Homo sapiens: one gene and its partner. The protein of the gene in region 2 purifies or fractionates together with the protein of the main gene of each other region. This does not show direct contact. Each region holds a gene or a part of one and is shown on either strand. Other genes may lie near its edges. The genes, in order: LIMCH1 and SYTL5.

Region 1 (4,267 bases), on a different chromosome or scaffold from region 2:
ACAAATCTCTCCCTACTTCCTCACTCCTCATTTCCTGTTGGGAGCTAAGTTTAAAGCTTCATCCTTCTAGATCTACTCAACATTCCTTTTTAAAAGGTAGAGAACAAGGAACGTAGCAGCTGTGTTCGCTGAGCCATTGAATTCACACTGCCCAGCAGCCCTTGAAAGTCAACTGCAGCGTCCATCAGGGCAAGGACTGACAGTTTGTTTCAACACTGAATATGGTTAGTACCTGGCAAGGAGCAGGAGTTCAATAACTCTTGGCAATAATTCGTCATCATTTTCCCCCTGAAATCCATTTTATTATTCTTTTTTTTTCTTTTCAGGCTAGAGTGCAGTGGTGCGATCTCAGCTCACTGTAACCTCCACCTCCCGGGTTCAAGCGATTCTCCTGCCTCAGCCTCCTGAATAGCTGGGATTACAGGTGCCCATCACCACACCCGGCTAACTTTTGTATTTTTAGTAGAGATAGAGTTTCGCCACGTTGGCCAGGCTGGTCTCGAACGCCTGATCTCAGGTGATCCACCTGCCTCAGCCTCCCAAAGTGCTAGGATTACAGGCGTAAGCCACTGCATCTGGCCCGTTTTATTCTTTTATTCTCAAATTATTCTCTCTACAGGACAAGAGAAGGTTTAAAAATCACTGAATCATGATTTTAGGGAAATATTCAACCTAAAAGGCAGGGCCAAAATCTCAAAGGGTCCCAAATTTATCCCAACAGCCAAAGTTCCTCCTCCTCCTCTTTCTCCTTCTTTTCCTACTCCTGTTTTTCTTCTTCTTCATATCTTGAACCACATGACAAGAAAAAAAAATCTAGACTCTTTACCTATATTAATTAATTTACTCTTCATGAAAACCACATAAGGTAGTTACTATATTATGTCCATTTTTACAGACGAGGAAACAAACGATTGTGTTGCCTGCCAAAGATCAGCACACAACTGAGAAGCTGCAAATCCAGGATTTGAACTCAGGCCATCTCACTCTAGAATGTCAGCTCCTAGCTGCCCTGCATACTATGTCCTGAAGGAGAGCTCTTAAGAAGGCCAACTGAAGCCTATGGGGAACAGTATCCTGGTCATTCATTTCCCAAATTGTTATTGAGTGTCTACTATATACCAGGTGCAGGGAATACCCCCAACAGCCATGGTCACTGTTCCTGTCTAGTCAACATTCCTGTTGCTTTCCTAATTGCCATTTGTTATAGCTCCCAGAGAGTAAGCATGCTGAATCCATTAGAAAAGGAAACTCAAGAGTGAGTTCTTCTTCCATATCTTTATCCTTTAAACTTTATTATAGAGAACAATTGCCACTCCTCTCAGCATTAGTTGGGACTCCAGCAAGAACCAGCTAGGACTATGTATCAGCCTGGAATGCATAGTTACAGAACTAAATGGAAATGGGAAAATGAATACAACGGTGTTAGGAAGTCCCTCTCTGCCCGATGATTAGATTGAGGAGATGTATTGGCAGCTGTAAGGAGGGTGGCTTATTCTTGCCCCTTCTTCCCTTGGGAAGGTCTTCAAAATTGGAGGAGTTATGGCTGCCCAGTCACCTTCTAGTCACCTTACAGAGAGAGCAGGAGAGCAGAGTGGCACATACCCTCAGGCAGGATTCCTGAGTCAAAGGCTGGCTGCTGACACTTGCAGCCTCTCGGTTTTATTTGACCTTCACCTTGTGCGGAACCCACCCGCGCAGCACAGGACAAACCCCTTCTCCCGGGACTGCTGAATCAGCCACTCTGGGAGTGGCAGGAGAGAAGTTTCAGACTCCTGAGACATTTGGTCTATTCAGCACCATGAAGAAAACGGCTGTAGCTCAGTGAGAGAATCACAATCAGGAGCTGGCTGAATAAAGGTGATAAAAATAGATTTCCCGACTCCACAAAGATGAATCATTTTGCCATAGGGATTCGCCAGGCTCTGTTTCAACCTGATTTTCAACCCAGCCTCATAAATTTGGCTAAGGAAAATTTTCTTCCCCTAGATAACCAGTGCCATGGAACGTTTAGCATTCAGACGGGTCTGACGGGATTTTATGAGACAATTGTCCAGAAATAACCCCCATTCCTTTCCCGGCCTGCAGTAAATAGTGACTATGAAGGACAAGGACTAAGTGGGCAAGGCTGGAGATGCAGCCCTTCCCTCCAGACTCCTCCCTGCCTCCCCAATGTCTTCCTTGCTTCTTTTCCTCCTCATTTTAAGAAATGGAAGTTTTTAAAAAGCAAAGGGGGCTGTGGAGTCAGGAGCAGAATGTGACAGGGGCTCAGGTGAAGCAGCCCCACCATGAATGCAGCCACATCTCCCCCACAACACCATGTGCTGCTGGACCACATCTTAAAAATGCAGCCAAGTTGCTTCTCATTCTCAAAATTCTCAAAAATCCTTTTTATTTTGACTAAACTAATGGAGTTATGTGTCTTGTACCACATACCGGAAAATAAAAAACAATGCTTTCCTTAGGGAATTAAAAAAAAAAAAAAGCTTAATTAAAAGCAACAGGTGCTAACAGTTATCAAAGGACAAGATGAATCCACAGGAAAGTAATTTTCATATTATTTTCGCCATACTAATAAGTGAATAAAAAGTCACTTTTTTTTAAACCAAGTATTAAAGTCTAAATAGCTTCCTTCTTTCCATCATGGATACCCCTAAGCATGTATTTCTTTTATAATGAATTTTACTTACCCCCACACGTCCTCATGCTCCGCAATGAACTCCAGCCAACCCACTCTGGGAGATGGGAGGGGCATCTCTCCTGTGTGCTCCTCGTCAGCCCCAGCACAGCAGCCGAAATGCCCTTACATTTCCTTTCCCAAAACAGTCGTCACCACTGCCAACCCCTGCTCTGTCCACAAGCAGGCTGCTGCGGCTGAAATGCTGATGCAGTGAAAGGGAACTGGAAGACAGCTGATTGCCACACCTATTGGAGAGGGAGGCGGAGAAGCCCATTCCCTCTGAGGAAAAGGAATGGCATCTTCAGAAGTAGAGATGCCAGGATTGGAATTGTGCAGAGAGCTTTGTGTCAGCCACTAGCACACAGTAGGTTTGCAGTACTGTCAGGAAATCTGGATCTAGAAAAAGCACCCAAGTGGGACCCGAGGAACAAAGACTCACTCCAGTCCCAACTCTGGAACAAAGTTGCTGCCTGACTCCAGGCAAGTCACTGCCTTCTGGTCTCAGTTTCCTTATTTGTAAAATAACAATGTTTCAAAAAGTAAATCTCTAAGTGGCTTCTAGTTCTGGGATTCTAAGACCATCCTAATGTTCATGAGCATAATAAAAAGTAAACTACCATTTATTGAAAACATCCTGTGTACCATCCATCATATTAGGTATTTTATGTATATCATCTCATTTAATCCCACAATGCTGAGATGGGATTTATCAACCCCATCTTATAGATGAGGAAACTGGCAAACTCACTCCATGAATCCCCATGAAAAAAAAGGATCATCATATTCCTTCAGTGTTTTGAATTTAAATGGAGGCATTCAATCTTTGTGCCTGAAATTGAGATGACATCTGAGAATGGAATTTCTGCACTGCTGGGAGATTAATGTGTTTACAGTCCTCTGCTGGTATAATTCTGAGGTACTAGTATTTATGGTTATGGCTGTTCATGCTACTGCAAAATCCATTTTCCACCTGTTGCTTTTTATTAAACCTCCCTAAAGGACATGAACTATTTCTTTCTGCAGATTCTAAAAGCAGGATGCTGAAATATGTGAGCAGAAGCATCGTGTGCGGAGTTACCATTTGGAATTTTCAAATGCTATAAAACACAATGTTTACAACCAATTCATCATTTATAAAAGTTTATTGGATTAATATGCCAATGGACTCACTGGTATCCTGCCATTTATTGACACAAATACATCAAGTGGTAGGCTGACATTTAATATTTATTAATAACTTCTGTATTTCCTTACCTATTTCATAGTTTCCTTGCATTATGCTCTTTTATCTTTATTGTCATTCATCCTACTTTAAGTGAACTTTTTATTTTAGAATAGTTTTTAGATTTATAGAAAGCTACAAAGATAATATGCAGAGTTTCAGTATAACTCATGTCTTACATCTTACATTCCTATGGTACATCTACATTTATCACAGTTAAGAAATAAACACTGGTACACTACTATTAACTAAATCCATGTTTTATTTGGATTTCATTAGTTTTTCCCTAATATGCTCTTTCTGTTTTAAGATCCCATCTATAATGCCATATAATATTTAATCATTATGTCTCCTTAACTTTTTCTGGA
Region 2 (3,823 bases):
CATCCAAACCCAATTAACCAAGCTCTCTATATGGATTGCAGACTACTCTTAGGGAATCTTGCTTCCAAGATCATAGAGACATGACCTAACTGAAAATGCATGAAGGTCTTTTGTGGACACCCACCCATGCTATCACCCAGGAGAGCAGCTTGAAGCTCTAGGGAGATGTATTTTTAAACTAAAAGTGAAGTTGACCCTCATCTGCCCAGATTTCTCCTCTAGAGGAGGAGTTATACATAAATATAGCCAGCTTGCTGCCCCTCATACTTGGTTAGGATTCCTATAAGTCTGATTGATAATGTCATGTCTGCCACATGTAGCAAGGAGCTGTGGAGAGTAAGATGAACAACATTTCTGCTCCTTAAAGGTGGCTTTCCCCCATGGTCTATATTAGAGGTTGGCAAACTTTTTCTATTAAGGAACAATTAGTAAATATTTTAGACTTTTTGCGCCAAGAGCCAAAACCATAGCTATTTTGTGGATAAGTATGCATCAATCAAGAAAATAAATGTCTGCCAATATTTTACCGATGACATTAAAAATATAACAATAATAATTGAGTGCAGTTATTTCATAGCATAGATCTACTAAAGAGAAGAATGGAATTTTAGGGCACATAACATCTAACTTAAAGTGAGCATTCCTATCATTAAAATTAATGATAGTAGGCCTAGCGCATTCCAGAGCTACTGAATTTGAATCTAAATTTTAACAAGGTCCCCCAGTGATTTGTACCTTAAAGTTCAAGGCCATTCTGGTCTAGAGTTTCTTAATACATTTTTGGCTTATATTTTTATCACTTTAGAGAAGATAGTGAAAGCTGTGGATCCTAGAAAAAGTTCACAAATCATTTGAAGTTCATTCAAGACTCCTACAAGGTCTGTGGCTTTGAAATTAAGACCCCAGGGATTCTGTGGACATGCCCGCCCAGAGCGAAAGTGTTCTGAAATTAGATTGTGGTGATGGCTAAACGCACTGTGAATAGACTAAAAAAAAAAAAACATTGAATTGTACACTTCAAATGGGTGAATTGTACAGTATGTACATTATATCTCACAAAAGCTGCTTTTCAAAAAAACAGAATCTCTTGAGTTTGTGTTCCATGGATTTTTTTTAACGTCCTATGGGGTTCCAATGGACACCTCAAGTGGAGAATTGCAAAGAGTCAGGTTTTGGAGTCAGGAAGCTCTGCATTCAAATCCTAGCTTTGGCAATTACTATGTTACAGAAACTAAGTTACTTAACCTCTCTGAACCTTGGTTTCTTTTCATACAGGGTGGAGATAATAATAGTACTAACTTCACAGGGTTTTGAGGAGGATCAAAAGGAACTTCTAATGCAAAATTCCTGGAAGATTCCTTGTCACATGCACTTTTTCATGTGAAATGGTGGGATTCCTCAGATATCAAATGCAAAGCCAAAAATAATTACATGCTTCGCATTATTCAAGTCGTAATTAATCACACATGTCATATTATCCATGTTGTACTATATTTTCCACTTAAATGTATATTTCCTGCTCCATTATTATACTTGCCTTAATGCTTTTTCCTTATGAGTCATGGTAATAATGATAGTGAACACTCAGCACTTATATACAAGTTTCAGGCCCTGTTATGAATTCTTGATTTACATATATGAACAGTACAATCTTTACATTGTGAAAGGAAAATAAATCTCTGGACCCCAAAATCACTAAGCCGAAGGGAAAAGTCAAGCTGGGAACTGCATTGGGCAAACCTGCCTCCCATTCTATTCCTAAATAAGATACCTACAAAGATAAAAAAGCTACATACCTCCCTCACAATTTTTCTCACAGGGAAATTTCTTGTGGACAAAGGACAGGGAGAACTCAAAGTCATCCCTCTGTCACAGAAGACAAATGTGTATCTGATTGCTTCCTTTGCCCTGTTTTTTCACTAAGCCAGACTAAGGCATAAGTGACTATTCCTGTAAATTGTGCTTATCAAAATATCAAAAGAATGCAACCATTTGTCTCCTATCTACCTGTGACCTGGAAGCCCCCTCCCTGCTTAGAGTTGTCCCGCCTTTCTTGACTGAACCAATGTTCATCTTACCTATACTGATTGATGTCTCACGGCTCCCTAAAATGTATAAAACCAAGCTGTGTCCCAATCACCTTGGGCACATGTCGTCAGGACCTCCTGAGGCTGTATCACTGGCACATCCATAATCTTGGCAAAATAAACTTTGTAAATTGATTGAGACCTGTCTCAGATACCTTTTGGTTTACAATATCAATTATTTGATTTAGATACTTTCACTATTCCCATATTACAGGTAGGAAAACCAAGGCAGAGGGAGGTTAAGTAACTTGTCCAGTGTTACACAGCTTGTAAGTGGTGAAGCTGGATTCTGACTAAGGGGTCTGACTCTATTGACTGTGCTCTTGACCACTATAATATACTGTAGAATTAAATATACATACATATAACATATATGTACACACACAACAATATTATATATAACATAATATACAACATAACACACAGGTGTGTGTGTGTGTTTAATTTTGTATTGGTCAAATTTATACCAGTGCCCAGCACTCCTGCTTTGGAGGGTACACACTTGTACATACCAAAAGAGTTTTATTATGACAGTGTAGAGAGGATGTAGGATATGACATCAGAGCAGATTGCCCTGACTAAAGAAAGAAATAAAAGCTGAAACAGTAGTCAGAGTGTGGAGAGGGTAGAGAGGAAAATGAGATTGGGGAGGTCCTGATGCTACCTGGCTCCTGTGAGCAGGAATGGGGGAGCTAAGCTAGGAGAGGAGGAGTTGGTGGTGGTTGAGGGACTAGGAGGACTGAGGGGGCCAGTAGATCTAGGGGCCTTGAGTAATGATGAGGGGCCCAAAGAATGCAGGGTCCCCTTAAGAAAAGATCATGGAGAGGAAACCAATCAGTGAGATGCTGGAGATGGGGTGAGGTCAGTGACAGGTTCGCAGATACCAGTATAGATTGAGTGAGCCTGAGAATCAGGAAGAAAGGTAAAAATTGGTGCAGCAGGAAAAAATACCCCAGGAAGATGCCTTTGGAAGTTACTTAAGCTGACCAAAGTGACTCTGGTACAAAGCAGGAACTCTGGTTTAAATCTTGGCTCTAAAATTTCTGAGAAACATGACTGAACCTCTGTATGCCTTGGTTACATAGAAAACACTTGAATAGTTCTTGAGTCACGGTAAATCCTCAGAAAGTGTGAGCCTTTGGCATTATCATTAGGAGCAGTACTGAACCTACATTTCATGTTTGCTGACCCAGGTTCAACATTTTTCCCAGTATAAGCAGTGAAAGATTATCACTAGATGATATTCTCACTGTTCAGGAACCTACTCTTTAGGTCTGAGTTGAGCCAATATTTAGTTATATCCTATTGTGCTTAAGTATAAAGCCATACATATGACTATTATTCACAAGAACAATAAGAGTCAGATGGGAATTCACTTGAAAGAAAATCAATAGCTGTTTGGTTGTTGTGTATAACTGATTTAGAAATAACCTTCCTGTGTTTGGAGCTCAAACTCTGTAACAGTCAACAAAAATAATTAGATGGCAGCTGTGAGTAGTTCAAAGCAAATTAAATTCTTCCTTCTTGAACATGGCTAATGCAAACAGGACATCCCAATCTATATTTTTTCCATATTAATGTCTGGACTTCCTTGTATTTAAGATCAATAGTATTCTCCCTGTGCTGGTCTCTCAATTAGTGGGAAGTGATTCTTCATCACAAAATGGTTTTTTAGTACATATCTAGTTCTAGTCAAAATATGCAACTTAAAAATTATACATTTGTTTGTGGCCACA

What was found.
Region 1: the proteins of SYTL5 (region 2) and LIMCH1 purify together in Homo sapiens (affinity purification with mass spectrometry; one large-scale study listed by BioGRID and IntAct). This does not show direct contact.

What each region holds. Positions count from the first base shown.
Region 1 is NC_000004.12:41,536,771-41,541,037, reverse strand, and holds the start of LIMCH1 (LIM and calponin homology domains-containing protein 1), read right to left. Parts: upstream 2,882-4,267; 5' UTR 2,688-2,881; intron 1-2,687.
Region 2 is NC_000023.11:38,012,885-38,016,707, reverse strand, and holds part of SYTL5 (synaptotagmin-like protein 5), read right to left. Parts: intron 1-3,823. UniProt on the Homo sapiens protein: May act as Rab effector protein and play a role in vesicle trafficking. Binds phospholipids.